Linked DNA regions of Homo sapiens: all the other regions are reported to be linked to region 1. Evidence: microRNA targets listed by miRTarBase, many of them from high-throughput screens and not tested one by one. Region 1 holds a microRNA gene; each other region holds the end of a gene's coding sequence.

What was found. Region 1 holds the annotated microRNA hsa-miR-4430 (AGGCUGGAGUGAGCGGAG, at 1,517-1,534, opposite strand). A microRNA usually pairs through its seed, bases 2 to 8, with sites in the 3' UTR of a target mRNA and lowers its output. Matches are read on the target gene's strand: a 7mer-m8 pairs with bases 2 to 8, a 7mer-A1 pairs with bases 2 to 7 and ends in A, and an 8mer does both.
Region 2: the mRNA of BMERB1 is a reported target of hsa-miR-4430. The part of its 3' UTR that is shown has no 7-base or 8-base seed match.
Region 3: the mRNA of C10orf67 is a reported target of hsa-miR-4430. Seed matches in the 3' UTR shown: 7mer-A1 at 1,752-1,758.
Region 4: the mRNA of DPY19L4 is a reported target of hsa-miR-4430. Seed matches in the 3' UTR shown: 7mer-m8 at 3,770-3,776.
Region 5: miRTarBase lists TMEM40 as a target of hsa-miR-4430. Seed matches in the 3' UTR shown: 7mer-m8 at 3,613-3,619.
Region 6: miRTarBase lists MAVS as a target of hsa-miR-4430. Seed matches in the 3' UTR shown: 7mer-m8 at 1,602-1,608, 7mer-m8 at 3,394-3,400, 7mer-m8 at 3,644-3,650, 7mer-A1 at 3,709-3,715 and 7mer-A1 at 4,260-4,266.

What each region holds. Positions count from the first base shown.
Region 1 is chr2:33,414,965-33,420,052 of GRCh38, reverse strand. MIR4430 (microRNA 4430) reads right to left here and starts at 1,537; the gene lies at 1,489-1,537.
Region 2 is chr16:15,586,339-15,591,426 of GRCh38, forward strand. It overlaps BMERB1 (bMERB domain containing 1), which reads left to right. Exons shown (of 6, transcript NM_033201.3): 6 at 379-1,921. The coding sequence ends at 491. MPV17L-BMERB1 (MPV17L-BMERB1 readthrough) reads left to right here. Exons shown (of 6, transcript NM_001414674.1): 6 at 379-1,921. The coding sequence ends at 491. Among named protein-coding and RNA genes, the nearest start is that of MIR6506, 22 kb to the right of the region's middle. RefSeq lists enhancers at 746-1,247, 4,188-5,088, 4,734-5,028.
Region 3 is chr10:23,199,586-23,204,673 of GRCh38, reverse strand. C10orf67 (chromosome 10 open reading frame 67) reads left to right here. Exons shown (of 16, transcript NM_001371909.1): 16 at 419-1,978. The coding sequence ends at 501. Among named protein-coding and RNA genes, the nearest start is that of PTF1A, 9.8 kb to the right of the region's middle.
Region 4 is chr8:94,789,053-94,794,140 of GRCh38, forward strand. It overlaps DPY19L4 (dpy-19 like 4), which reads left to right. Exons shown (of 19, transcript NM_181787.3): 19 at 694-4,784. The coding sequence ends at 858. Among named protein-coding and RNA genes, the nearest start is that of INTS8, 32 kb to the right of the region's middle.
Region 5 is chr3:12,730,337-12,735,336 of GRCh38, forward strand. It overlaps TMEM40 (transmembrane protein 40), which reads right to left. Exons shown (of 12, transcript NM_018306.4): 12 at 3,192-4,457. The coding sequence ends at 4,438. Among named protein-coding and RNA genes, the nearest start is that of TMEM40, 26 kb to the right of the region's middle.
Region 6 is chr20:3,865,208-3,870,295 of GRCh38, forward strand. MAVS (mitochondrial antiviral signaling protein) reads left to right here. Exons shown (of 7, transcript NM_020746.5): 7 at 476-5,088. The coding sequence ends at 940. Among named protein-coding and RNA genes, the nearest start is that of MAVS, 21 kb to the left of the region's middle. RefSeq lists an enhancer at 805-1,306.

The sequences.
Region 1 (5,088 bases):
GAAAGGAAAGTGATAGTAACAATTTGCTTACAATTGCCAGGGCAAGGGCAGAGACTTGGAGAACACAGTGGGAAATGAATGGTAAATATGTCATTCTCTACTGGAGGCAGGAGTGGGAAGTAATTAGCTGGGGAGGAGTGGGAGCTGGCTAAGGTCAGAAACAGTGACCTTACAGCATTATTATCTTTCAAATTCAAATACACTTCTATACCTCGCTTTGGGTTGCTGGGACAGAAACTGCAAACGACATTTCTATTTTTCCAGCCAGATACCTTTCAGGCTCTTTAGGGGGTGGTAGAGGGAGCCTGCAAGGCTGGAGGAAGAAGAGAGAATTTGCTGCCTCCTGTCTACTTCTTATTCCTGTGATGTCACCTGAGCAAAGCTTCTTCAAATGGGCAGAGGCACGGCCTTCTCACAGCAGCAGCTGAATCTGCTTTTCAATTTTGTCCCATTTATAAAACACGCTCCTTTGTACCCACTCAGAGACATTAACCCCAGCCAGCCAGTACCAACTCCTCAGAAAATTTGAGTCTCCAAGACTCCTACTCTACGTTTCCAAGTTTAATAATTCCAATCTCTTCCCTCTTTTCCCTCAGTTGAAAGGGTGGTAGCTGATGACTGCAGTTGCCACTTACCTCTGTGATACTTTAGAGATCTTTTTTCCCTTCTCAGTTACCTAGCTAATGGCTTTTTACCTAGTTGCAATTCTTCATATTAAAATTTTCCTTTTCCTTTACCTGGTGTGGCTTCTGTCTGCTGAATGGATCCTGACTAATAAAAGGTATTTCTTCCAAAGAAAAATCTATGATGGTAACTGAGGTTGGGGGTAACTGAAGGTTCAAATAGCAGGGAGATCAAGTTCAAATACCAAATGCAAAGACCACAGACAGAATTTGAAAGAGTGACCACAAAGTTAGGAGGTTGAAGGTGGGCAGAGACATAAGCAAAATAAGAGTAGGACTGGAACAAGATAGAAGGCTTAGGGTGATTGCTATGGAGGTGGAAATTATCAACCCATCCACCTACCCGCTACCCTCCCCCAGTCAGTAGGATGGGTAAAGCTGATTTAAAAACCTCAGGCAAGGCCAGGCGCGGTGGCTCACGCCTGTAATCCCAGCACTTTGGGAGGCCAAGGTGGGCAGATCGTGAGGTCAGGAGGTTGAGACCATCCTGGCTAACATGGTAAAACTCTGTCTCTACTAAAAATACAAAAAATTAGCCAGGCATGGTGGCATGCGCCTGTAGTCCCAGCTACTCGGGAGGCTGAGGCAGGAGAATCACTTGAACCTGGGAGGTGGAGGTTGCAGTGAGCCGAGATCGTGCCACCGCACTCAAGCCTGGGCGACAAAGCGAGATTCTGCCTCAAAAAAAAAAAAAAAAAAAAATCTCAGGCAAAAGTGGACATTACTTGTCTAGATTTGGGGTTGATGAGGGTTTTTTATTGGAGGTGGGAGTCGTTTTGTTTTTTTGAGACAAGGTCTCCCTTTGTCACCAGGTTGGAGTGCAGTGGTACGATCTCCGCTCACTCCAGCCTCACCCTCCTGGGCTTAGGTGATCCTTCCACCTCAGCCTCCCGGGTAACTGGGATGACAGTCACATGCCACCATGCTTGGCTAATTTTTAAAATGTTTCGTACAGATGGGGTCTTGCTATGTTGCCGAGACTTGCCTTGAACTTGTGAGCTGAAGCGATCAAGTTCTAAGAGCAGCTTATAATATGATTTTTAACGCATGTTGTCTATGATCATAGAGGGAGATAGACATGGAAAGAAAGAGGGCCTTTTCTGCCTTGTGCCTTTTTCCATGTCTATTCTAAGGACCAGGATTGCCTTGAGACCAACACTGTGAGAGCCCTGACTCAGTATCCATAGATATTCTATCTGCACATTGCAGAGCACTAAGCCAGTCCGCCTTCTCAGCTTCAGACTAGTCAGTTTCATGGACTTTCAGCATCTCTGTGTAGATGTTTCCAGGCACCTCAAACCCACCATGCTCAAGGATGGATCTAATCTCTTTTTTCATTCAGATTTCCCCCCCGCCGCCACCATGGAAAGCAGGTAGGAAACACTGGATTTCTTCAATGTAGCCCCCCAAAACAGAAACCTGGTTGCCTTTTCTTTTTTCTTTTTTTTTGAGATGGAGTCTCACTCTGTCGCTCAGGCTGGAGTGCAGTGGTGTGATCTCGGCTCACTGCAACCTCTGCCTCCTAGGTTCAAGCGATTCTCCTGCCTCAGCCTCCTGAGTAGCTGGGATTGCAGGCGCCCACCACCACACCCGGCTAATTTTTGTATTTTTAGTAGAGACAGGGTTTCACCATGTTGGCCAGGCTGGTCTTGAACTCCTGACCTCAAGTGATCCGCCCGCCTCGGCCTCCCAAAGTGCTGGGATTACAGGCATGAGCCACCACGCCCGGCCCTGGTGACCTCTTAGCATCTTCCCTTTTTGCTTCTTCTGGCTTCAAACTATTTGAAATACTCTGTGTGACACATCAGTGAACAAAATGAAGTCTTGTTGCCTAGTTGGGAAAAATGGAAAATCAGCAAAAGGTAAATCTGGGAAAGACTTTTTATTTAAATTATTTCTCTTTGAAGGGACTCATGAAAAATTGAGAAAATAGGGAGCGGTACTGGTCATGAGGAATGTGGGGAGGGAATCCTGAAATCTCCAGCTCTGATTTGCAGAGAAGGTTTGAGAATAAAGAGCTCCAAGAGCTGTTTGACTCATGTTGGCCGATCCTGAAATCCAGAAGTCCCCTGGCAGGAAACCCTCTGGAGACGACAGACTAAACCATCCTGCCATTGTCAGCCTCACAAGGGGCTCAGCAACTCAGCAAAAGGAAGTTGTTTTTTTGTATTGCACTTTTTTTTTGTCTTAAAGAGATATCCTTCTTAATAGTTACATTAATATCTTGAATAAAGATGGAGAGTGTATGTCAACTTGGAAGAGACAGCAACCATACTGGAAGTCAGAATCAGAATCTCAAAACATCTTAACATAAGGCTAAAGAAAGGGACCAACAACAGAAGAGAAATTAATAGGAGCAAAGGTAAAATTTTGTACTGAGGTTCAAAAAGCCACTTGTAGAAGTGCAGAATGGGGAGATGTGGCTGAACAGGACCCCAAACTTTTCAAGCTTGTTCTTGATGTTCTCTCAGTCAGGGTATGCTAACTGCTATAATGACAGTGCCCAAGTCCCAGTGATTTCAAGATATCCTGTGGAGAAAAAAGTATGGAAGGGGCCAGGCACAGTGACTTATTCCTGAAATCTCGGGACTTTGGGAGGCCAAGATGGACAGATCGCTTGAGCCCAGGAGTTCAAGACTAGCCTGGGGAACATAGCGAGAACTTGCCTGTACTAAAAATAAAAATAAAAATAAATCAGCCGGTCATGGTGGCGTGTACCTGTAGGCCTAGCTGCTCGGGAGGCTGAGGTGGGAGGATCACCAGAACGCAGGAGGTCAAGGCTGCAGTGCGCTATTGTCGTGACACTGCACTCCAGCCTGGGTGTCAAAGTGAGATTCTGTCTCAAAAAAAGTGTGGAAGGGATAACAGTGCTGGCTCAATTGATTGCTTCCTGTGAGACTGGACATTTCCATTAACATGTGCCCAGCAAAGGGATTTTTAGATAATATTATCTAATTTTAACTAAGTTAACCCTCATATTGGAAAAATTGGCTTTAAAAATATTTCTGTAAAAAAATAGGTGAAAGAAAGACAACAGCAGAATAAACCTAAAGAAAATGGCAGAGCAAACCCTTCTGTTCTAAATATAAATTCTACATCAGCCACAATATGAGGTTAAAAGAAAAGAATGGTAGGATAATTAGACCAGCAGGTAGTCCCTTCAAATCCAAAGTTATCAAGAAGACCATTTAAATTATGAATTTATATCCACTGCCATTAATGATAAAATTCTTCCTAGTTGGCTGGCATGTTATGTCTTAAGATGTTAACTAGTAATAATATAAAGTTATTATGATTAACAAGATATTTGAAAGCCAAACATTCAAAATGGAAGAAAAATTTCAGCAGCTTTTTGAGAAATTTCACAAAACCTACTAATAATTGCTCAGAAACTTCTTTTGAGGTTTTTTGTTTTACGGTTAAGAAACAAAAGCCACAAACCATTGGGGTCTCTGGTTCTCCCTGCCACAACAAAAAATGTTGAAATAATTATAAAACAAAAGGCCAAAAACTAAAATTCACTCTTTTGTCAGCAATTTTTTGGGAAGTCACATAGTAAATATTACGGAAGATATGAAGAAACAACTTAGTATTGGCCATGCATTTGGGTGAAAGTATAGGTATTTCTATCATGTCTCAGCTTATGGCATTTTTTGGATTCTATTTCAATAGTTACATTCTTGAAGAACTGCTTTTTTTTTTTTTTGAGACAGAGTTTTGCTCTTGTCGCCCAGCTGGAGTGCAATGGCGCAATCTTGGCTCACTGCAACCTCCGCCTCCTGGGTTCAAGTGATTCTCCTCCTACCTCAGCCTCCTGAGTAGCTGGGATTACAGTCACCCGCCACTAGGCCCAGCTAATTTTTGTGTTTTTGGTAGAGACGGTGTTTCACCATGTTGGCCAGGCTGGTCTTGAACTGCTGACCTCAGGTGATCCACCCGCCTTGGCCTCCCAAAGTGCTGGGATTACAGGCGTGAGCCACCGTGCCTGGCCAAAGAACTGCTTTTTAATGAAGCACTTTAAAGAAAAAATCATACTGGAAAATCAGACTAAAGAATATCTCAATGATAATTTTTTTTTAAAAAAACAATATTTTATCGGAAAACTTTTAAAGTATAACCACTGAATTTACAAGAATAAAAGGTATTCCTGCAGAGGAACAACAAAATTTCCAGAAACCTTGACAGAGATATTCATCTCAGTGGTGTTCATCCAATGTGTCATTCAATGGGGAGCTAATGCACCAAGAAATTGATGCTGGAACGTGCATAATACTCTTGATATCAACAATGCAATTCGTTTCAAAGAAAACCTGTAAGCAGCAGAACTTTAGAAGGTTATAATGAGATAGAAAGTCTTTGAGATTGTATCATAATCCTTCTTGTTCTTCTACCCAATATTGATTTT
Region 2 (5,088 bases), not on the chromosome of region 1:
AAAAATATGAGCCCTCAGATTGAAGTGACTTGAACAAAATTTCCCATTTATCTATTTACCAAATACTTCTTGGATGTCAGGCCCTGTGCTAGGCTTGGCAGGTACAATGATGATAACAGCTGACTAGGAGAAGGGCTGAAAGTTAGGGTTGGAAGCTGAGCATTGAGGACCATATAAAATGAGGACTATAAAATGAGGACCAGCTGAGGATCATATGAAATGTGCATCAGCTCTCCATACCACCTGAACAAGGCCTGGAACAAGACCTGGCCAGGGGTTGCAGTGGGGCTGGGCTGCAGATGGTCAGGGCTCTGCTCACCTCACCTCTCTCTCTCTGTTCCTTTCTCCCCCTCTCCCTGTGCCCACATCTTGCTGCAGGCTCCCGGGCAGAGAAGAAAGCAGAGCCCCCACCTAGCAAGCCCACGGTGGCCAAGACGGGGCTGGCACTGATCAAGGATTGTTGCGGGGCCACCCAGTGCAACATCATGTAGCCCCCACGTGGGGTGCCCTGGGCCATGGGGACCCCCCCCCACCCTCTTGTCTTTATAGCCCCCATTTCACCGGGGCCCAAGAGCTCTCCAAGGCAGAAGGGGTTGAAGGCAAGCCCGTGACTGTCACCAGAGGCCATGGGCACGGCAGGCGGGCCTGGCCACCCTGTACAGAGTGTAGCAGTAGGGAGTCTCTCACCGTCGCATGGTCCTCCCCAGAGCATGCCGAACCCAGGAGTCTGTCTCACTGTTTATCCAAACACCAGGAAAGGTCCTCCCTCAAAAAAGCATATCTCCACTTCTCTCTAGCTGTATCTAACCCACCGTGTGAATGAACTGGGAGAGGGGCATGCTCCCCAGCTGTGTGTAGTCGTGACTTCTCAACAATCTAGCACCATGTCGGACACGTTCCCCATCCACCCTCCTAGCTCTGCTCTCAGAGCTAGGCACATGGGCACAGGTCCCCTCCCGTCTGTCCTCTCCCAGCAACTGTGCCCTGGAGGGCTCCACATGGCCCCCGTGTCTCTCGGGCACCACCCATATAGCAGTCCCAGAGGGCCCATCTGTAAAGATCGAGCTTGTGTGTGGTGTCGTGGTCACATCTCCCGCTTCCCCCCATCCTGTGTCTGGGCACAGTTCACATCAGGACAGCGTCCATTGTGCTCTCAGTCTGCCTCAGGTGTGTGCCTGGAGGGGGCCTGGACTGGCATGGATCCAGTGTGCAGAAGAGCCAGCAGGGAACCGGAAGCTCTGATGTCAAGGCCAGAGCAGTTGAGAATGGGACCCAGAGTAGATGCTGACCTGGGCACTCCACCATTCCGGGGCCACCACAGAGATGCCAGCAGGATGCCACTTTGCCAGCCCGACACACGGACCTTTGTAAAGAACAGCAACAGGCAGGAGAGGCAGCGTGTGACCAGATTGTGTCCCGTCATTGGGTGGCATATGTTAACTAGCTGCCAAACAACTTCAACCCGTGTAATTCATGTACATTTGCAACAGCCAGCCCGGTACAGCCTGTGTGACTTCTCTGTATGTGTGTGTGTGTCGTGACCAGCCTAAGTAGTTAGCATAACTCAAGATGCTGATGTGCAGTCACCCATCAGAGAAAATAAAAATGGAAACCACGTTCACAGCATTTTAAAAGTTTTTACTTTTTTTCTTGATTATGGAAGTAATCCATGTACATAGTAAATCATTTTAAAAGTACAAAAAGTATGAAGAAGTTTGTCTTAAAAAAAAAAAAAATTATTCCTCCAACTAGAGACCACTCTGATGTTTCGACGTTTTAAAAAAGTCTTTTTTTGTGCATTTTTTCATCGTTGACATCATATTGTGGTATCATTTATAACCAGTTTTTTCCTACTTATTATACCACCATCTTCCACATCATTAAAAGCTCTTTGTAAACATTAAACACTCTTCATAAATCATGCCAATGTCTGTTTAGTAATCCATCTTGTGGATGTACTGTAATTCATCTAATCATTTCCTCACTATTGGATGTGTAGACTGGTTCTAGGTTTTCTTATAAATAGTGTCTTGGATTAGCCAGGCATGGTAATGGGTGCCTGTAATCCCAGCTACTTGGGAGGCTAAGGCAGGAGAATCACTTGAACCCAGGAGGCAGACGTTGCGGTGAGCCGAGATCGTGCCATTGCACTCCAGCCTGGGTGACAGAGCAAGACTCCATCTCAAAAAAAAACAAAAAAAGTGTCTTGGGCCAGGCGCTGAGGCGGGAGGATTGCTTGAGTCCAGGAGTTCGAGACCAGCCTGGGCAACATGGCAAAACCCTGTCTCTACTAAAAATACAAATAGCTGGGCATATGCGGTGGCGCGGGCCTGTGATCCCAGCTACTTGGGAGGTGGGAGGATTGCTGGAGCCTGGGAGGTTCCAGCTGCAGTGAGCCATGATCACACCACTGTATTCCAGCCTGGGCAACAGAGCAAGATCGCACCCCCTGGAAAAAAAAAATAGTGTCTTGATAAACATCTAGGGGGATAAGGTTTCATCTGAATTTTTTATTTTTTCCTTAAGATAAACTCCTAGAAGTAAAATTATTGGGCCATTCATAAGTAGCATTTTCAAAATATTTGTAAATTGGCTGGGTGCGGTGGCTCGCATCTGTAATCCCAGCACGTCGGGAGGCAGAGGCAGGCTGATCACTTGAGGCCAGGAGTTCGCGACCAGCCTGGCCAATACAGAGAAACCCCATCTCTACCAAAAAATACAAAAATTAGCTGGGTGTGGTGACTTGTGCCTGTAATCCCAGCTACTCAAGAAGCTGAGGCAGGAGAATCTCTTGAACATGGGAAGCAGAGGTTACACTGAGCTGAGATTGCGCCACTGCACTCCAGCCTGGGTGACACAGCGAGACTTCGTCTCGAAAAAAAAAAAAAAATTTGTAGATCAAAAGGTCTTTGGTTGGACAGGCCCTCCCAGCAGGCTGCTAGACCCCAGTCCTCCCACTCTGCGTGTTCGCGGCTTTGGTCTGCACACCACTTCCCACCATTCTGATGCTGAAAAGGGTCCCTTGGGCTACTCAGTGCCACCACAATGGCCTCAGAGGACCCCGTGTCCTCCTTCACCAACCTAGACCAATCATGAAGCCAGACTCTTCGTGTACTGGGGATGCCATAATGAATGACCTTCTACTGGGTGACTTAAAACAGTGGAACCGTCTCCTTTCACAGTCCTAAAGGCCAGAAGCCTGAAATCAACCTGTCTGCGGTGCTCTGCTCCCTCTGTGGGGAAGAATCTTCTTTTGCCTCTTGCAGCTCCTGGTGGCTCCTGGCACCTTGGCAGTTCCCTGGCTGCACCACTCCAGTCTTCACCTCTGTCTCCACGTGGCCGCCTCCGCTGTATATGTGCCTCTGTGCACCCTCTCATCTTAAAAAGACACCAGTCATTGGAGTGAGGGCCACCCGAATGCAGTATGATCTCATTTGGACCCTTTCCTTAATTACTTCTGCAAAAACCCTCTTTCCAACCAAGGTCACATTCTGAGGCTCCACGTAGACATGCATTTGGGGAGGACCCAATTCCACCCACCACAGACCCCTCCCGCTCCAACGTGCAGTGAAAACTCAGGCTGCAAAGGGCCCACCGCCCTCTTTTCCCCATAAAAAATGTGGGTCAAGGCTGGGCACTGTGGATCATGCCTGTAATCCCAGCACTTTGGGAGGCCGAGGTGGGAGGCTCACTTGAGGTCAGGAGCTCATGACCAACTTGGCTAACATGGTGAAACCCCATGTCTACTAAAAATACAAAAATTAGCAAGTGTGGTGGCACATGCTTGTAATCCCAGCTACTCGGGAGGCTAAGGCAGGAGAATCGGTTGAAACCAGGAGGCGGAGGTTGCAAAGAGCCGAGATCGCACCATTGCACTCCAGCCTGGGCAACAGAGTGAGACTCCATCTCGGAAAAAAAAAAGGGGGGGCTTGGGGGGTCCGGGCGTGGTGGCTCAAGCCTGTAATCCCAGCACTTTGGGAGGCCGAGGCGGGCGGATCACGAGTTCAGGAGATCGAGACCATCCTGGCTAACACGGTGAAACCCCATCTCTACTACAAATACAAAAAATTAGCCGGGCGTGGTGGTGGACGCCTGTAGTCCCAGCTACTCAGGAGGCTGAGGCAGGAAAATGGCGTGAACCCGGGAGGCGGAGCTTGCAGTGAGCAGAGCTTGCGGTGAGCAGAGATTGTGCCACTGCACTCCAGCCTGGGCGACAGAGCGAGACTCCATCTCAAAAAAAAAGGGGAGAGGGGAGTGGGGGGGTCAGCGAGGTCTGACCTCAGGCCAGTTATACAGCAGTCACTCACAGATCCAACGAACCAGAGGAGATCAAACCCTCATCAAAATCCTGCCTCTGGTACTTCCGCTAAGCTCTGGGTACACCTACTGTATGTTCCTGTAATTCCTACTGATTTTTTTAAAAAAAGAAAACATTAAAAAATCCAATTTATTTAAGCTGTCACAGACGCTTCCAGATTACCAGGGCCACCTTCCAAGCTGGGAAACCTTGCAGACTGTGGGGTCCTGCACACCTAGACTTGCTCCTTTTAGAAGCCATGGAGGAGGTTGATAATGGGAATAACATTTATTGTAGCTTATCTCTATGCCTTGAGCAATGTGCTCACACTGGCTGGTTCCCTCCTCACATCAGCCTGATGAGTCAGATCCTGTTATTACTTCTCACTTTACAGATGAGGAAGTAGCAGTAAATCCATTACCCTTTTCAAGCGGAGGTTGCAAGAGGTTGCAAGCGGAGGCAGAATAAACACTTGAAACAGTGAGTCAGATCCTGTTATCACTTCTCACTTTACAGATGAGGAAGTGGCAGTAAATCCACTGCCCACGGTCCCAGGGGTTGTTAGTGACAGAGTCATCATTCATCTCCCTCCCTCCCCACCACTGTAGCCCCAATTGTTCTTTCTCTTCCCATCGGAGGGATTTAAACAGGTCTCTCCCATTTAAAAGCAAACAGGGCTGGACACGGTGGCTCACGCCTGTAATCCCAGCACTTTGGGAGGCCGAGGCGGGCAAATCACGAGATCAGGAGATTGAGACCATCCTGGCTAACATGGTGAAAACCCATCTGTA
Region 3 (5,088 bases), not on the chromosome of region 1:
GCAAGGCAAATGGAAATTTAAAACTTGGAAAAATCAAATCCCTGGGCCCAAACACAGACAACTCTTCCCACTTTTTTTATTCTGCTACAACGGCTTCAAGTAGAATGTTGAGTACTGGCCTTTATCAGGGGCACCTGAGACCATTCCTGCAGCCTGGGGCTGCCGGAGAGCCCCAGACTGTCTCAGAGCAAAGCTTGGCTGGCACACGCTGTCTGGAAGGCCAAGGATAATCTGCCTGCCTGCCCTACCTCCTTCACCGTCTCTCTTCCAGGTTCCTGAAGAGGCTCTCAGCTAGGGCCAGGGCTGGGAAGACCCACTAAAAAAAATGACGCAAAATGCTTTGGGGGAAGAGTGGGAAGTGGTCTGTGTATGATAAGTAAAACAAAGTTTATGTCTGTCCACCTTTCTTCACGTTTAGGGAAGTTGTCGGAATCCCCAAAAGAAGAGTCCTTGGAGGAGCCCTCCATGCGCCAGAGCAGCCCCGCAGAGACTGTTGATTAACCCAGCAGAAGCCTGGGCTGCGCAGACGGGGCCTCAGAAAGAGTGGCCTCGCCGTCCTGGTGTAAGGTGCCTCCCTCGGAAAGGATACTATCTCCAAGGATTTTCTAAACTAATTGTTTAATCTCTCCAGATTATGTATATTAACCAGCACTGCGCTCGAATAGACCTCAATGCGCGCCTTGTGCGCGCTCCTTTCCACGCCTTTAAGGAAAGCCCTGGCTGGTGCTGGGTGAGCGGGGCGCACTGAACCTCCGGGGCAACCACATCCATTCAGGAGCTCCGGGGACTCAGAAGAGCCCAGGCGTCTAAGAGTGGGAAGGGACGGACTTTAATTAAAAAGTTTGACTCCCTCTCTAATCCAGTCTTTCTATACCAAAAGCATCAACCTGTTTTGCTGTCTCCTCACCCAATAACTAGTCCCCATGAAGGTAGGTCATGAAGACTACAGGGAGATCGTACATTTCCTCAAGCAAGATTCATTCTTATCTTACCCCGGCACAGGGCACCTAGCCGCATCTTAAAGGCTGTCAGAAATTCTTTAGTAAGTAGGGAAACTCTTTGGAGTTTTGCTTCCTGGTAAGGATGCAAACCAAGATTCTGCTGGAATGCCAGACACCGTTTACCAAAAGGCGGGTTTGCTTTTCTTCCATGCGTAATGTCCAACTTGGTTCTTTCTATTCCCCTAACTACAAGTAAGGCCTTGTTAAGAGCCTGTATCTGAATCGTAGGCTCTGGATTACAGAATTCTACAGTTATTTATTAAGTCTCAGGAAATATATTTGTGGTAGTTGTCACATAAAGCTGATATACTTTAGTTCAAAAGAAAGCTGCAGAGGTGATTTATTTGTGCGTAAAAGGAACAAGATTTAATTGGAGAGAGACGTGTTCTTTTCAACGCAAGTACATGGGATGGTATAGCGCTGTGGAGCGTTATTCGAGCTTCATCTACTATGCACTATATGCCGCTGTCTCCAAAGGAGTGTTGCCCTAGAAACTTGTTTTAAATCTGCTGCTATATATCAACACCTTGTTTTAGCAGTCCTTGGCTGAATTACAGTTACACAGTTTGGCGCTTCTTTCAAATTTCCTCCCATCAGTTTGGCTAAAGAAAGGAATTTTTCTCCTTTAGAAATGAATTGGCTTAATTAGTAAGTAGATTAATGGCAATTGCTGGTGAGTTGGTTTCCAGCAGAGTTTCACCAGAGAGGGTTAATCGGAGTCAGGTCTGGAATCTTTCCCAGAACTGGCTGCCAGCCATTTCCACCAACCAATCAACCCTACAAGAAACAGAGGAAATGAAATAAAATTTGTATTCTCTGTGCCATCGTCCTGGACAGAAATTCCTTGGAAGCAGCCTCCTGGTTGGGTGTGATATCAAACTGCTTCATTTCAGAACTTTAATAGAAACTTGAACCTTCAAGATTTATCTGGGTACCAAAGCAAAGTTTCAAATGGCACAATAAAGGTCTCCACAGAACCCTGGATGTATTGGAAATTTCTGAGGCTCTCAGCCAATTTCAGGTTGGGAGAAATTGCAAACCACCCAGGTCCTGCCCTATATCTGTTGTCCATCAGAAGTCCTTCAAAAGTTTTGCTGTATGTTTTGCAGCCTTTTTACTTTTTTACTTATTTTTTTCCCATAGTGATGAAAATGCATTCATAGTTTAACTTGCAGCTGCATTAGTCTTACAAAAAAAAAAAAAAAATCCCTGCTGAGAAATGCATATAATAGGAAAAACAGATCGGCTGGACAGCAGTGTAATTAATGCCAGAAAGGGCTGAGGCCGGTTTCATAGTTTGTCTTTTGAGGATATCAAGACGAGACCTGGTGAAAAATGACGCATGCTTTAGCATTTCAGAAAGCTGGCAACTGGCAGCGCTTTTCCTTTTTTCTTTGACTTTCTGCCGCGGAACAAAGAGGTCCGCAGAACTAGCTAGGTTGTAATGAGTTCTATGTCCCTAGCACATTAAGTGCATCATGGAAACATATTGTATCGAAATAGTTTGGAGGAGAATACCGGGGATGAAAGAGAATGGGTGCTTTGATCAGCTCCCTGGGGTCCTGAGCACGCACAGACTGACTTGCAAGGAGTTATTCAGCTCCAGCTAGACACACTTACAACACCATTGAAAGAAATTTGCATATCTGTAATTTATCACATTGGTCCAGAACATTATTGCAAGGTAAATAAAAGTTAGTTGAATAAAAAAAATCAATCATCGCAGATATAGAGAAAACTGTGAAGCCAGTCTTTCCACTAAAAAATAGAAATAAATATGTCTATAAAACATAGTGACTTAGAAGTAGCTGACTTTATTTTAAAATGCCTTTAGAACAACAGGTTATGCACTGGCAAAAACAAGAGTGGCCACAATTTCTTTGCCTTTCTGGTTTAGGGGAGTGTGTTCACTGCTTCCCACTGGAATAAAGTCAAAGTTGAGATGTGTTTGGCCATAACCAGCCTGCAACATGCAGACAAAAATTAGTACACACTTTGAGCAGATATGAAAGACGACTTAATCTCTCTGGCATTTGCAAATGCTAAGTTAAATCTCATTTCTTCTTCTGTTGATTTCATTCCTAAGCCTTGTTTGCTGAATTTAGCTCAAGAGGATGAAATGTCCAGAGACCTGGTCAATAGGAAAACTTGCTTTCGAATGCCCCATGAGAACAAGTGAAAATTTAACAGGCAGGCATTGTTCTGAGTTTTGAAACAACCCAGTTAAACAGCAAACAAGAATCTTCAACTTGACCTTGAAAAAGGCTGTGTGCCTGCAGATAATCTATCAAACAACTCTAGATGACAATGATATATTTCAAAGTATTGTCAGATGAAAAGATTGATAAATTTGCTGTTGCAAAGAGAGAACTTTGGAAACAGGCAACAGGCACTTTAGCTCTCTGACTCCGCCTCCTCCTCTGTCCTCACTGCCCCGTCCCCACCCCACCACCCCCAGCCGCCCTTGGGGCCAACTCGGTAGAAGAAGGCCAGTAAATCAGCACTGTAATATTTCTTAAGGGGCACGGAAAAGCTGTGAACAGTACTTCTCATATTAAACGCAATATTTCTTTGCTTTCGTGGGGAACAAAAGTCATAGCAAGACGTCTTTATGGCTAATTCAGTCAAAGGCACATCCCTGGTTCCCCCCGAAGAAAGGTCAGTGTCGTTGTGTTTGGTCCACCGAGGGGGTGTTTTCACACTGAAAACTGAGCCAGCTGTCCCTGTCATACCCTCGCCATTGGGGAGCGCGCACTAGCCATGGTTATTAGGCACTTCTACACCTGCAAAATACACCGATTTCCAAGACTTTTCAAGACACCCTCCCGTTCTCATGCCCCCTCCTCTTGTCTGCTAAACTTTGACAACACAATTCAAGCCCTGGATGAAAGCGCTGCACGCAAGAAGAACTCTTGGGAGGGGTGGCCCAGCTACCATCTCCCAGTGTCTATTGAGCGGCCATCAGAGAAATGAGGCGGCAAGTGTATTTTCAAAAGTACGGAAAAACTTCCAGATAATCGCTTCGAGGTGTCACATTTGCTATTGCCACATATGCCAACTGTTGAACCCTAATATTTTATTATATGCACCGGTGTGAGTTGTGGGGTTGCAGCCAGGCGTCCTTCGCTTAGAAGTGGCTTGTTTTAAAATTTGTAATTAGCATGTCACTGACAAGCGCCAGGAGACACATTTTTTTTTGAGTTGCCCAATGCCAGTGCACGTCTATATTTTTAAAATCCGAATGCCAACGCTTGCCCAAATGGATTTTATAAAACTTCTAGAAACATCCCCTAGCTAGACTCATACCCTGAATCCAATTCCGAAGGCCTGCGCTCCAGAGATAGGCGACTAACTAGCTGTTTGGGAGACGTCCAGCGACTCCAACAGGAAAAGAGCTAGAAGGGATCCTGTGCAGTCACCGAAGAGAAATTGTAAAACTAGAAATAATTCAGAAAACGCATCTTTAAGAGCGAGAATGCCCCGAGGTGCCGGTACCTCTAAGACAGAAGGGCTAATGTAACTAGCTTTCTCCATCCGCACTTACATAGGGCCTAGGAGTGGGGGTAGGGAACCGAAGAGTCCTATCTGGCTGCGGGTTGCGGGGAGGGGACGAGGAGAGGAGAAGAGCCCATTTAATTAGCCGGCGGTGTGTCTCTAATCCTCATCTTTGTCTAATCCACCCAAACTGCCGAGCTCTACATGAGAAGTCCCTAGAGTGGGCGAGGTGCAGAGGTGCCCAGGACGCCTTGGGTTCCTGGGACACAGGCAGAGGTGAAACACCCCACATGCCACAGGAAGCGGGGAGGGGGTGCCTCTCACCACAACGGAACCCTAAACTATTTCCTGAAGGCTTGGGGCCTCCACACAACCCGCCTCCACCAGCAAAGCGCCGGCGCCTCTCCAAAGCGATGTCAGCGCAACAGGTTGTTTGGAACAGGTGCCGGCCAGCTAGGGATGGGATTGGCCTTAAGTTGCGGGGATCAGTCAAGGGCCAAGACTCCCCGAGAAGCAAGGGCAGACCCCCAGAGGTCCGAAAGTGGGGACTGGCTAGAAACCTGCGCCCCCCGCTGCTGTCGCTGCTAGCGCT
Region 4 (5,088 bases), not on the chromosome of region 1:
TGAAGCCTCGGGTACAGTTTCAGTAATTGGTGCTGTCTTGCTATCTGCTCTCTGAAGCCTTTCTATTCTGCTCTGATACCCACTTTTCTGCTGTTTTGAAGATCAGCTTACTTCTCCTTTCATGTCATGCCTGGCATGGACTTAAGCTAATCCATCCTTTTAAAGTTGGCTATCTGACATCTTTCATAGCCATTAAAATATTACTTAATTTTTTTTATAAAAACTTCTTCAAGCTAACTAAGCTATCTTAGTGAACATCATTCGGTGAAATTGTAAAGGTCTGCACTAAGTCACGAAAGTTTCCTTGCTTACTAAATAATTCTACACGAGAAGAGTGAATATATTTAGGAATATAATATGTTCATTTCTCAGCCTTGGTAGGGTGCATGATAAGGTCTTCGGAGCGATGATAATGGATTATGGAAACACTGCCTTCTAAATTTTAGGATTAAATCTTTTAAAAATTGGAAACCTTTGTGCTGGTTTCTCAGTGTCAATGAGAAGTTCAGGAGTATAGTGGGCATGGTGACTCACTTATGAAGAAGGCTTCTATTTGCTAACAGTGAGATGTTTTATAGACAATGTTTAGCAATAATGTGTTTTTTCATATAAATATACTCATTTGTATATTGATTGCATTTCTGCTATAAGCTTAATAAGCTTTTTAATATTATGTTTTATATCTTTTAATAGATGGTTTGTGAAGAAGGTGACAAGCTAACCTACTCAAAATATGGGCGATTTTGTCATGAGGTCAAAATTAACTATTCTCCATATGTGAATTATTTCACTAGAGTATACTGGAACAGATCCTACTTTGTATATAAAATCAACACTGTGATATCCTTCCAGTCTTGAAAAATAACAGAGCCTTCATTTCAAAGACTACCTGAAGTAAAATGCAGTTTTCTTCTACCTACTCGGTGTCTTTTGCAGATCAGAGTATGGACATTTGAAATATTGCTGCTTCTTTCCCCCTTCTGCTGTTAACTGGATCCAGAGTTCTGTGGGAAATAGAAGATCAAGCATTACTGTCCTTTGATTAAATGTGATATCTACCACTCTGCAATATTCCAGACAGGTGTCTTCCTTACCGTTACATGGTCTTTAACACTTTTACTGATTGCAATATTTTCCCCATAAAATCTTCATTCTATTATAATATTGATCTTGAATTTGAATATGTGCAAGGTCAGATACATTTCTCAAACATAACATTTAATAAATAATGTGATATAATTATTTAATAGAAAGAATAATTCCGACCTTCAAGCAAGTTTCTGAAGGTATTTTATGATGTATAACAACTGAAGTTTTACAATAAAAACTAATTTAAATGTTAGCTGAAGATATGTGGCATTTAAATTAAAATGGAAATTATATAAAGGAAAGTGATTTTTAAGGATATACATAAAGATATATTTAGAATTTTCATGATACTGTTCTCCTCATCTACTGCTTATGTTAAGTGAGAACTTTCTTAGTAATACATAATGCATGATGTTACTGCATTTTCTAAATGACTAGTAAGTGATTAGTTTTTTCACTTATGCCTATTAATTTGATACCAATTTAATCATGATAAAACAATAACCGTTAACATATATTTTGTTAAATGGACATTTAAAAGAATGTTGTTCAGGTTTTTTTTTTAAATACTGATATGGGGCATACAATCTATTCACATGTTTTCTACTGAAGTACTAAGTAAAAAAATTAAATCATTATCAGAATAAAAATATGTGTTCTAAAATTAGCAACAATTTCTGGGGATACATGCAGATGTTGTTAAACGTACCTCTGCATACAGATATATTATAAAACACAAGCAATGTTATTTATGAAACTGTGATGCAGTCTTCAACATCAAGAAAAAATGACAACTATAATAAAATTTACAACACAGTTTCACAGTCTAAATGCTATGTTCCTTTAAGTATTTTCATATTTTTAATCATTTATTAAGAGAAAATTGTGAAAAGTTAATTTGGCCTTATAGAGAGATTCAGGATAGATGTAGCCTATAGATGTGTCATTTTAATAAGTTGGGATACATGTTTAGTTTTTCCTTATATTCCTGTTCAGTGAACAGATTTTCATAATTCTCACTTGTTAAAGTGCTGCAAAAATTGCATTTTCAGTACTCTAAATTACTACATTAGAAGAGAGCATTTCTCCATTGTCTTTATTTTCTGTTATATATGTGTTGTAAAAGTACACTACATTAGAAGGGAGCTTTTCCGTTGTCTTTATTTTCTGTTATACATGTGTTGTTAAAGTACATGCATTCTTAGACTAACTCTCAGATGCTTTGCTCTTTTGGAGCTGAAGAATTGTTTGATGGTGATGTCATATATCTGATAGATTAGTTTCAGTGGTTCTCATTTCACTTTTATACGTAATTTCTTAACTATATTAAGATAGTTGCAGGCAGTGTACCTCAGGTTGACTCTGTACATCTGAATAGTGAGTCACTAGTATTTTGCTTCAAGCCTTCTGAAAATATAACCATAGTTACCTAAGCACACAGTGAATAGTCACATGGTAGTACTTGTGATTAGAGCATGTAAAACAATGTAATTGAAAAGTCAGCTTCCATATTTTGTAGGGGAAATAGAACACCCTACTTTTTATCTAGTGTGAAATATTTAATCGAATTTTTGTTGATTTATATTATGTTACCTGTGCTGAATTAGGTTTGGTACTTGTGTTTTGTTTGACATATTAGTAAGTTGCTTTTGCTTCTTTCTGTCAACTTATTTTTTAAATAAAATTGATCTGGAAAAATTGTTAATGGGATGTTTTAAATAATGAATTTTTCATCCAGCATCAGTTGAAAAGGAAAAGAAAGCTTCATTATGGAAATGACAATATTGAATATGACAGATAAGTTTATTTGCTTCTGTTTTAACTGCAGTTAATAGTACTAGACAACTTTAAGTGGAAAGCATTTAGTTTATTTCTTCACTTATTTGTAGAGTGAACAAATGATTCACAATTCTACAAGTAATTCCACTTAGGTAACTTACAGTTGTTAGGTTTGACAATAAAGATCTACTATGAGAGGAGAAGAATTTATGGGTTTTGGGTGGAAGGAATTTCTCAAAGAAATAAAAAATGTTCTTTGCCCTTGATACTGCAAACCCACTGATACAAGTGCCTTGAATTTATTATTATTATTATTTTTTATTTTTTTGAGATGGAGTTTCACTCTTGTCTCCCAGGCTGGAGTGCAATGGCGCGATCTTGGCTCACTGCAACCTCCGCTCGCTGCAACCTCCGCCTCCCAGGTTCAAGTGATTCTCCTGCCTCAGCCTCCGGAGTAGCTGGGATTACAGGCACCTGCCACCAAGCACGGCTAATTTTTGTATTTTTAGTAGAAACGGGGTTTCGCCATGTTGGCCAGGCTGGTCTCGAACTCCTGACCTCAGATGATCCACTCACCCCAGCCTCCCAAAGTGCTGGGATTACAGACGTGAGCCACTGCGCCCGGCGCAAGTCTTTGTTAAAAGTAGAGATGGAGGCCAGGCGCAGTGGCTCACTCCTGTAATCCCAGCACTTTGGGAGGCTGAGGCAGGCAGATCACGAGGTCAGGAGATCGAGACCATCTTGGCTAACACGGTGAAACCCCGTCTCTACTGAAAATACAAAAAATTAGCCGGGCAGGGTGGCGGGCGCCTGTAGTCCCAGCTACTCCGAGGCTGAAGCAGGAGAATGGCGTCAAGCGGCGAGGCGGAGCTTGCGGTGAGCCGAGATCATGCCGCTGCACTCCAGCCTGGGCAACAGAGCAAGACTCCATCTCAAAAAGAAAAAAAAAGTAGAGATGGGATCTCTAGCCTCCTAAGTTAATTTAGCCTCCCAAATGCCAGACAAAGAATCTAACATAAAATTTACCTTGAATAAGATATATGATATTGATTCTGAGCTGCTTTGTATTTTTTCTGACTTTGGCATCTGTATCTTGGTGCTTTCTGTTAGACTGGTAGAGTTTAAGAACCTAAGGAGTATGCATTGTACTTCAGTGCTAACTTTTTTCTTCATTTACTTTCTGTGTATATAGGCAGCATATTTTTTTTGTAGAACATTAACCCAGATTGCTAATAGCTTCATGTTACGGCATTCTTCCACACAGTCCAGATTGATTTAAGGAAAAGCAGAAATGGAAGTCAAAGTGTGTTATAAATTGAGACTGAAAAACATGCTTTAAAAAATAGATTTAATTTCTTACACTGTGAATAGCCATTGTATTGTTTTGTTTCTGATAAATCAGTTGTTTTGGGCCCCTATTTTTGAACTGTTAAAAAATTTTGATGCTTTTCGTGGATAAAAGTAGTGCCTCTCTTTATACAACTGATGGGGTTTTAAAAAGTGTAAATTGCCTTTTTTGTTAAACTTATTTTAAATGCTTTAGTATTTAAAGGGTGTATGTTATTAATTAATCTGCATATTTGTAACGCAAATAACTACTTCCTGATTTACATCTCAATATATTCTTCTTTCATTTGCCCAATTTAAAAAATACGTAGTCTCTATTGTTGCTGTTTACTAATAGTTTTAGATCCCAATGTGTATTAGAATTATAGCTACAAAAAGTTGCAAGTAAAATTTAGCAATTTCCTATTCAAACAGGATCTCATTAGTATGTTTTTTAATGTGTAGAATTAACACTTTAAAATAAACAGGTGTGAAAATTATAAAGGAATATATATGACAATTATTTTCTGTACATTAATGTCTAAACATTATACTTACTTTTTCATAATAAAGGAAATTTTGGAACCAAATTTGCTGAGTTTAGCATAAAGGCGTCTTTGAATTATTTCTGAGTTTCCTAAAATGTGCAACATTTTAATCTTGGCATATCTAATCCTATGTGCTGTTCTGTAAGAGGTACACTGGACTTCTAACCACTATATGTATTTAGTAGAATAATGGTATCACAAAGGAACAAGAATTCCAAACTTATAGTTTGAAATGTCTCATAAACAACCCTTTCGTATTTTAAGTTAGTAGCTTTGTATAGCTATTTAACACAGATGAGTATAGTTAGCTTTATATATATTATCCTCTGAGTCTTATCTGTGACAA
Region 5 (5,000 bases), not on the chromosome of region 1:
ACAGTGTTGTGCAATTATCACAACCATCCATATCTAGGGCTGTTTTCATCTTCCCAAACTGACACTCTGTCCCCATTAAACACTAACTCTCATTCCCCGTCCCGCAGCCTCTGGCACCCACCATTCCACTTTCTGTCTCTATGAATCTGATTACTCTAGGTACCTCATATATATGGAATCATAACTGTATTTGTCCTTTTAACATAATGTTCTCAAGGTTTATCTGTGTGGTAGCATGTGTCACAATTTCTTTTTTTTTATTTTTATTTTTTTCTTAGAGACAGAGTCTTACTCAGCCACCCAGGCTGGAGTGCAGTGGCATGATCATGGTTCACTGCAGCCTCCACTTCCTGGGCTCAAGTGATCCTCCCACCTTAGTCACCTAAGTAGCTGGGACCACAGGCATGTGCCACCACGCTTGGCTAATGTTTTTATGTTTTGCAGAGATGGGGTTTTGCCGTGTTGCCCAGCCTGGTCTTGAACTCCTGGGGTCAAGTGATCCTCCTACCTCAGCCTCCCAAAGTGCTGACATTACTGGCATGAGCCAGTATGCCTGGCTAGAATTTCCATATTTTCCCCCTTTGGTTTTTATTTTTTTGTGAAGTCTCAAATAATTTCCTTTTTTAAAAACTGATAATATACCATGCTTTGTTTATTCATTCGCCCATTGATGGACGCTTGTGCTTCCCCTTTCTGGCTACTGGAAATAATGCTGCTTTGAAAATGTGTGTACAGAGATCCCTTCAAGTCCCCTTTGGGCATATGTGCAGAAGTAGAACTGCTGGATCATATGGTAATTCTATTTTTAGTTCTTTGAGGAATCACTATACTCTTTTCCATAGCAGAAGTGGAAATTTAAAAAAAAAAAAAAATAGTTGCCAAACTCTAGATTTGGGGCTTCTGCTAAGAAACTGGAGGTCTGACCCCAATGGTCTTGCACTTGCAGAACCAGCCTCCTCAGGCCCCTCAGAGACACCTCCCCAGCTAAGCAGTGCCCTTTCCCCAGAGGTCTGGGTCCCAGCTCTGGAGGACCCTCTCTCAATCTTCTCACACTTTATTTATTTATTTATTTATTTATTTATTTATTTATTTATTTATTGAGACAGAGTCTTGCTCTGTCGCCCAGGCTGGAGTGTAGTGGCGCTATCTCGGCTCACTGCAAGCTCTGCCTCCCAGGTTCATGCCATTCTCCTGCCTCAGCCTCCCGAGTAGCTGGGACCACAGGTGCCCGCCACCACGCCCGGCTAATTTTTTGTATTTTTAGTAGAGACAGGGTTTCACCGTGTTAGCCGGGATGGTCTCCATCTCCTGACCTCGTGATCCACCCGCCTCGGCCTCCCAAAGTGCTGCTGGGATTACAGGCATGAGCCACTGCGCTCGGCTATTTATTTATTTATTTATTTACTGAGACGGAGTCTTGCTCTGTTGCCCAGGCTGGAGTGTAGTGGCATGATCTCGGCTCACTGCAGCCTCTACCTCCCAGGTTCAAGTGATTCTCCTGCATCAGCCTCCCAAGTAGCTGGGATTACAGGTGCCCGCCACCAAGCCTGGCTAATTTTTGCATTTTTAGTAGAGATAGGGTTTCACCATGTTGGCCAGGCTGGTCTCGAACTCCTGACCTCAGGTGATCTGCCCACCTTGGCCTCCCAAAGTGTTGGGATTATAGACTGAGCCACCGCACCCAGCCTCTCACTTCTTTTTTTTTTTTGAGACAGAGTCTTGCTTTGTCTCCCAGGCTGGAGTGCAGTGGTGCGATCTCAGCTCACTGCAAGCTCTGCCTCCCGGGTTCATGACATTCTCCTGCCTCAGCTTCCCAAGTAGCTGGGACTACAGGCACCCGCCACCACGCCGGGCTAATTTTTTGTATTTTTAGTAGAGATGGGGTTTCATCATGTTAGCCAGGATGGTCTTGATCTCCTGACCTTGTGATCCGCCCATCTCGGCCTCTCAAAGTGCTGGGATTACATGTGTGAGCCACCACACCTGGCCCCGGCCTCTCACTTCTAATAGCTACAACCTCTTTCCTTTTTCTCTCTAGCCCTAGGCAGTTCCCTCAGTTACACTTTGTGATACTATGGTCCCTTTCTGCGTTTCTAGTAGTCCTGCACCTGGTTAACATGTCCCTCTATTAAATTCTTTCTGTTAAAGCACCTGGTGTGGTTTTCGTTCGCTTGGCTGACAGATCCCACTTAGCTGGTGTTCTCACCTGGAATTGCTAGACAGCAGCTGCCCCCTTTGGTCAGGTATATGCTCTTCTGTTCCCCTCTTCCTGCTCCCTACTTTTTTCATTTTTATTTTTATTTTTTTGATACCGGGTCTCGCTCTGTCACCCAGGCTGGGGTGCAGTGGTATGATCATGGCTCACTGCAGCCTTGACTTCCTGGGCTCCAGCGATTCTCCCACTCCAGCCTCCCAAGTAGCTAGGTCCACAGGTACACGCTACTACACTCCTGATCTCAAGCAATCCACCCACCTTGGCCTCCCAAAGTATTGGGATTATAGGTGTGAGCCACTGCACCCAGCCCCCACTTTTCTACATCTTGCTGACTCTGTATGCCTGACCCTAAGGGGATCTGATTTGTGCTCCTGTCTAATGTAATAACGCCCATTGATTGAGCATCACCTATGTGCCAGAGTCTGTGCATAAGACTTTATGTAATTATCTCATGCAGTTCTCAACATAATACCGTGAGGTGGGCACTGTTATGCTCCCCATTGTACAGATGAGAACATTAAGGCTGGGAGAGGGGAGGACTTGACCAAAATCACAGCCAGGGCCAGCATTGGTGGCTCACGCCTGTAATCCTAGCACTTTGGGAGGTCGAGGCAGGTGGATCACCTGAGGTCAGGAGTTTGAGACCAGCCTGGCCAATATGGTGAAAACCCATCTCTACCAAAAATACAAAAATTAGCCAGGTGTGGTGGCAGGTGCCTATAATCCTAGCTACTCAGGAGGCTGAGGCAGGAGAATCACTTGAATATGGTGGGTGGAGGTTGCAGTGAGCTGAGATCACACCACTTCACTCCAGGCTGGGCAAAAGAGCAAAACTCTGTCTCAAGAAAAAGAAAGAAAGAAAGAAAGAAAGAAAATAAAATCACAGCCAGGCAGTGGCAGAGCTGGCCACAGGGACCCATCATTCCTATAAAATGAGGCTAACCACATTGTTCCCAAGTCAGTAAGTTCATACTTCTATCGTGAAAACTGTGTTTTATTTATATGTTTAATAAATATCTGATCTGTGCACTCTGGGCTCCCGTTAAATTAGGTTACATACAAGTACTTGAAATCAAAACCTCAGAAGTTACCCTTCTGAGTTTTGAGAACAGCATGTCTGTGACCATCAAGAACTCAGTTCAAGTTCAGGATATCAATCACATAGCATGGTGACCATAGTTAATAACAATGTATTGTATACTTTGCAAATTGCTGACAGTAGGTTTTTACTGTTCTCATCATAAAAAAAGGGTATGTGAGGGATACATATGTTAATTAGCTTGATTTAGCCATTCCACATATTTCAAAACATGTTGTACACTACAAATACATGCAATTTTTATTTGTCTTTTTTTTTTTTTTTTAATTTTAGAGAAACGATCTTGCTCTGTCGCCCAGGCTGGAGTGCAGTGGCTTGATCGTACCTCACTGCAGCCCTGAACTCCTGGGCTCAAGCAGTCCTCCTGCCTCAGCCTCTTGAGTAGCTGGAACCGCAGGTATGTACAGGTATGTACCGCCACATTTGGTCATTAAAAAAAAATTGTAGAGATGGGGGTCTCACTATGTTGCCCAGGTTGGTCTTGAACTCTCAGCTTCAAGCGACCCTTAGCCTGAGCCTCCCAAAGTGCGAGGATTACAGTTGTGAGCCCCCATGCCTGGCTGCCATTTAGTTTCTGATGATCATTTTCCTGCCTTTTTTTTTGGGTGCAAAAAAAATGGTTTTAGTCCTCAGCATCTTACCTGCATCAGGTTCACCAAGGGGCCCCAGCCCGATGGCTCCCTGCCTCAAAGCAGTGGACCATCCATCTCTCCCAGGATGGCTCGGTAGCACCTGAGAGCGCATGCAGATAGCCTGGGATTTGAGAAAAACCATGAACCCAGACAGATCACAGCTTGCAGAGCTCAGGGTCCCTTGCTGTCCTCTGAGAGCAGTGACCTCCCAGAATCTTCCTGCTGGTCCAGGTACTGTGAAGCCTCAGGCCCCACACCCACCCTCTGCCTTCCATCCTTGCAGCTGGGTTGCACAGCAGTACTGCCCAAATGAGATGCCCCTGCCCGGGCTGGTGCCAACATTCAGACCACATGGAAGGAAAAGTGTTCTGTTTATTGGTCTGGCTTGGTCTCCTGTGCGTCTCTCAGAATGCTGCTCTGCCCTTGTGGGCTCAGGGGTCGCAGTGGTGGTCACACTGGGGCCTGCCTCTGCTGCCCACCTGGAAGTGGCCTCAGTCAGTCTTCCTGAACCCTGGAAGGCAAAGACCACAGGATGGCATGGGATTCTGAAGGCAGCCAGGCTTCATCCCCACCATCACCTCAGATGCCCAAGTACCCCTCACAGCTGGCATGATGTAGTCACCCCAGAAGCCATGGGTCTCAATGAACCACAGTCATAATAGCTAGTTTTCTTTTTCTTCATTACATGGATTAAAGGAGACAGATATTTCCCCAGCACAGCCACACAGCCACTTGGCCTCTCCATTCTGAGGCATAAGGTGGTCACAGAGCTGTTAGTCAAGAAAGACGATGTGCTTTCGCCCAGCCCAGCCACTAAAGCTGTGTGACTGTGGGCGAGTCACTCCACCTCTCTGAGCCTCATTTTCCTATTGGTCAAGTGTAACATTGCTAAAGCCTACCTCCCCAGTTGCTATTAGGCAAGTACAGCCATGGAGAAGACAGCGTTTGGGGAAGTGTAAAGTTCTATAAGAGAATGAAGACTAACCAGACCATTTTTCTACTGTTTCACACTTCAGGCCTTTGCATCCATTCCTCACTTGATCTTCACAACACA
Region 6 (5,088 bases), not on the chromosome of region 1:
AGAACGCAGTCCCACCTGGAGCAGCCACTCGGACCCAGCAGCCCCCCATTGTTGCCTGCTCCAAGCCTCACATCTAACCCTAGCTGCGGCTGTCTGCTGGGAAGAGCCAAGTCCATAGGGCCCTTTGGGCACATGGCCAGGCCTCTGACCCTGTGGCTGCTCTCTAGTTCTCAGGCCCAGGCAGGATGTCAGTGCAGGATGGAGCCCCGCCCTACCAAAGGCTTCCAGGTGGGCATGAGCTCACAGGCAGGCCAGGGAGTAGGGAAAGGCTGCCCTGGAGGAGGCCACCATTGGTGCAGATTCTTGGTCCCCTCTACCCCCACTGCTCCAAGAAAAGGTGGCCTAGGGGCATTATAGATTGGGAATTGAGGGGTTGGAGTGTTAGTTCATGCCCTGGCCTGGGAATGGGACCGCCCTACCAGGTTCGTCTCCCTGCCAACCCCAGTCCCTTCCAGTGCTCTCCTTTCTTTCCCAGGAGACCCCAGCAGCTCCAACACCCGCCGGCGCCACTGGAGGCAGCTCAGCCTGGCTAGACAGCAGCTCTGAGAATAGGGGCCTTGGGTCGGAGCTGAGTAAGCCTGGCGTGCTGGCATCCCAGGTAGACAGCCCGTTCTCGGGCTGCTTCGAGGATCTTGCCATCAGTGCCAGCACCTCCTTGGGCATGGGGCCCTGCCATGGCCCAGAGGAGAATGAGTATAAGTCCGAGGGCACCTTTGGGATCCACGTGGCTGAGAACCCCAGCATCCAGCTCCTGGAGGGCAACCCTGGGCCACCTGCGGACCCGGATGGCGGCCCCAGGCCACAAGCCGACCGGAAGTTCCAGGAGAGGGAGGTGCCATGCCACAGGCCCTCACCTGGGGCTCTGTGGCTCCAGGTGGCTGTGACAGGGGTGCTGGTAGTCACACTCCTGGTGGTGCTGTACCGGCGGCGTCTGCACTAGTGAAGCCCTGGGCTCTTCCCACCACCCATCTGTTCCGTTCCTGCAGTACACCTGGCCCCTCTCCGAAGCCCCTTGTCCCTTTCTTGGGGATTGTGGAGGCTGGGTCAGAGGGGAGTTAAGGGACTGCAGGCCTGGCAGCAGGACATGCCTTGGCTGAACCAAGTCCTGAGAGCAGCATCTCTGTCCCCACGGTGCCTTGTGTGGGTCCCCGTCCTTGGCTTTCTGGGTCCTGGGCTGCCCCCAGTGCTCCAGACCTTCCCCACTGGCAATCCAGGTTATCATCCATGTCCTCCAGAGGAGCTTCCTCCTCCAGGCCTCAGCCCTGTTGGCCCAGGTGGAGCAGGAGGGACCACTGGAACATGTGGTGCTTGGGAATGCCTCTCCTGTTGCATTGGTCCCTGAAGGCCTCAGGGCAGGTATGTGGTGTGTGGGCGACTCCACAAGACCTGCCTCCCATCCTGGCAGCCCAGCCTGAGACCGTTGCATTGAGGCAGGCAGGAGCGGCAGGGTGGCTGCTCTCCAGGAGCCCAACTGCCTTGAGTTCCTGCCCCACTGGGCCCCCTCCCCTGCTGGGCAATCCTGGGAAGGTCTGGAGGTTCCTGTGGACCTCAGGGAAGCCAGGGGCAGCTGTCAGGCCTGAGGAAGACCTGTGGAGCTCCTCTCCAGCCTCCTCTTTCCCTCCCCTCTGGTCTCCATTCTCTTCAGCTCCCTACATGGGCTGGGGAGGAGACACCTGGTGGGCAGAGCTCAGGCAGAGGTTTGGATTTCAGCTCCCTCACTTCCGGGGCTGTGTGGCTTTGGCAGATGTCAGACTTCTGGTCTTGCTTCTCCACGTGGACAGTGAGTATCTGGCTCATTCTTCACTGGGTTCTTCTGAGATTGAACCTACAGGTGTTTGCCAAGTGCCTGGCCCAGAGCAAGTGGCCACTGCTTCTCCCATCTCTCTCCTGCCCAACCTGGTAGAGCTGAGGGCATGAGAGGCAGAGTGCACAGTGGTCAAGGGTGCAGCTCTGCAGCACAGGCAGCCTAGGCCTGCGTCCCAACCTGCCTCTCACCAGCTCTGTGACCTTGGGCAAGGGATTTATCTGTCTGTCCCTTAGTTTTCTCACCTGTAAAAGGAGGATAAGTATATATATATATTTCCCAGTGTTGTGAAGATTAAAGGAGTTTATCGATGTAGGTCTTAGGATGAGTCCTGGCATTTACCAAGGGTTGGATATATGTTATTATCACTATTAAGTGTTGAGGGTCCAGGCATGCTGGGCAACAGGGACCCCATCTCTACAAAAAAGTTTAAAAAATTAGCCAGGCGTGGTGGTGCACCTGTCGTCTTAGCTACTTGGGAGGCTGAGGTGGGAGGATCACTTGAGCCCAGAAGCTTGAAGCTGCAGTGAGCTAGGATCGTGCCACTGCACTCCAACCTGGGTGAGAGAGCGAGACCCTGTCTCAAGAAAAAGAAAAATGCAGAGAAACAGGAGTCTTGGCTACTCCTTTAGAGGCAGACTCAGACCCTCCTGCCTCACAGCTTTATCTTTGTATTTGCCCCTTACTTTATCTTGTGCCTTGAGAAATTGCTGGGGAGAGAGGTATGTCCACTGGGCAGCTGTACAGGATGGAGGATATAGGGCGTTTCCACTCCCAGCAGCCAGGTTCCCTCACCCCAAGCTCACCCACTGTTGGGGAGATTATCTACAATAACACCAGAAACACATTGGGGTGGATTGGGGGTATCCTTATGGGTTCTTTTCAGGGAACCATTGCTGGACAAGGCACAGGAGCCACCTCCATTTCTGAGCTCTGCAAGGGACAAGAACTAGAGCCATCAGGGGCTGGGCTCACTGTGGCCCCACCCCAAGCCGTCAGCCTCCAGGGATCTACACCCTGCCTTGGCTGCTACAGCTTTTTCACTCCACTGCCCTAGGGGAGTTCAGCAACCTAATGATCTCTATCTCTGAACATCTCTTCATCCCATGCTCCAAGTCCAGCAACCTGCACCCTGGAACCAGGAGTGGACCCTACCCGAGCTGTCTGTATTAATCCCCATCCCCCACCACCAATCTTAAAAAGCCCTCTGTCCCCCTACCCTAAACCCCAGTTAGGTACCCATGCTGGGCAGGTCAGTTAACAATTTATGCACAGGTACTAGTTTTATTGTATTACCGTTCCAGGGTAGCTTTGAAAAAAGTATCTCAAAAAGGCAACATGGGCCGAGCGCAGTGGCTCACGCCTGTAATCCCAGCACTTTGGGAGGCCAAGGTGGGCAGATCGCCTGAGGTCTGGAGTTCAAGACCAGCCTGGCCAACAGGGTGAAACCCCGTCTCTACAAAAATAAGAAAATTAGCCAGGTGTAGTGGCAGACGTCTGTAATCCCAGCTATTCAGGAGGCTGAGGCACGAGAATTCCATGAACCCAGGATGCGGAGGTTGCAGTGAGCCGAGATTGTGCCACTGCGCTCCAGCCTGGGCGACAGAGTGGTATTCTGTTTCAAAAAAAAAAAAAAAGGCAGTATGTAGCCCCGAAGACTGTTGCCCAAGTGGTAGAATGTTAGCACACTACCAGCCTAGGTAAAAAATACAAAAAGTAACTGGGCATGGCGGCGCCCATCTATAGTCCCAGCTACATGGGAGGCTGAGGTGGGAAGATAAGTCACTTGAGCCCGCCAGGAGGCGGAGGTTGTAGTGAGCTGAGATCGCACCACTGCACTCCAGCCTGGGTGACCGAGTGATACTCTGTCTCAAAGAAAAAAAATTATAATTTTAGCACAGTAACCAGCCATGATGGGAGATACCCTGGGTAAGGCATGTAGAAAGGGTTGAGGGACCTTCCCAGTCCCCTAGCCCCGCCTCCCATCCTCCCATCTTTTTCTTTTTTCTTTTTTTTAGAGAATCACCCAGCCTGGAGCGAAGTGGTGCAATCATAACTCACTGTATCCTTAAACTCCCGGGCTTAAGCGATCCTCCTGCCTCAGCCTTCTGAGTAACTAGGACTTCAGGTACCTGTCACCATGCCTGGCTAATTAAATTTTTTTTTCTTTTTTTTTTTTGAGATGGAGTCTTGCTCTGTCACCCAGGCTGGAGTGCAGTGGCGCGATCTCAGCTCACTGCGACCTCCACCTCCTGGGTTCAGGCCATTCTCCCGCCTCAGCCTCCAGAGTAGCTGGGACTACAGGCGCCTGCCACCACGCCTGGCTAATTTTTTTGCACTTTTAGTAGAGACGGGGTTTCACTGTGTTAGCCAGGATGGTCTCGATCTCCTGACCTTGTGATCCGCCCGCCTCGGCCTCCCAAAGTGCTGGGATTACAGGCGTGAGCCACCGCGCCCAGCCAAATTAAATTTTTTATAGAGATGAGGTCATGCTGTTATGTTGCCCAGGTTGGCCTCATGAGATCTTGCCTTAGCCTCCCAAAGTGCTGGGATTACAGATGTGAGACACTGCACCCAAACCCCACCACTTTTTTTTTTCCTTTTTCTTTTTTTGAGACAGTCTTACTCCGTTGCCCAGGCTGGAGTGTAGTGGCATGATCTCAGCTCACTGCAACCTCCGCCTCCCGGGTTCAAGCAATTCTCCTGCCTCAGCCTCCCGAGTAGCTGGGATTACAGAGGCCTGCCACCACACCCGACTAATTTTCGTATTTTTAGTAGAGACGGGGTTTCTCCATGTTGGCCAGGCTGTTCTTGAACTCCTGACCTCAAGTGCTCCACCTGCGTTGGCTTCCCAAAGTGCTGGGATACAGGAGTGAGCCACTGCGCCTGGCTGATCCCAGCACTTTTCAAATGATGCCGCTCAAAGCCGTGACTTGGCCTACTTTGAACAGCAAACTTGTTGCTGCTGTTGTCAACCTGAAGGCCTCTCAAATGCCAGCTTCAAGCAGGGTGTGAATTGGCCAGTGTCAGATCTCAGGAGTCCTGTGTTGAGAGTGTGGCTTTCAGCTGCGGGGAGCTGCACTTGGTGGGGAAAGCCAGGCAGGTCACCCTCACAGCCAGATAATGTGGAGGTCAGAACCCAAGGAAGGGAGTGAGACCTCCACTCCCAGTGGGGGACCTGGCCACCCATCCTTGGGGACCTGAGAAAGCGTACTTCACCTTGGGGTGAAGGCTGGGTGGGGCCAGAGGGACCAGTGCCCTCCTCAGTGCTTAGGGGCAGAGCC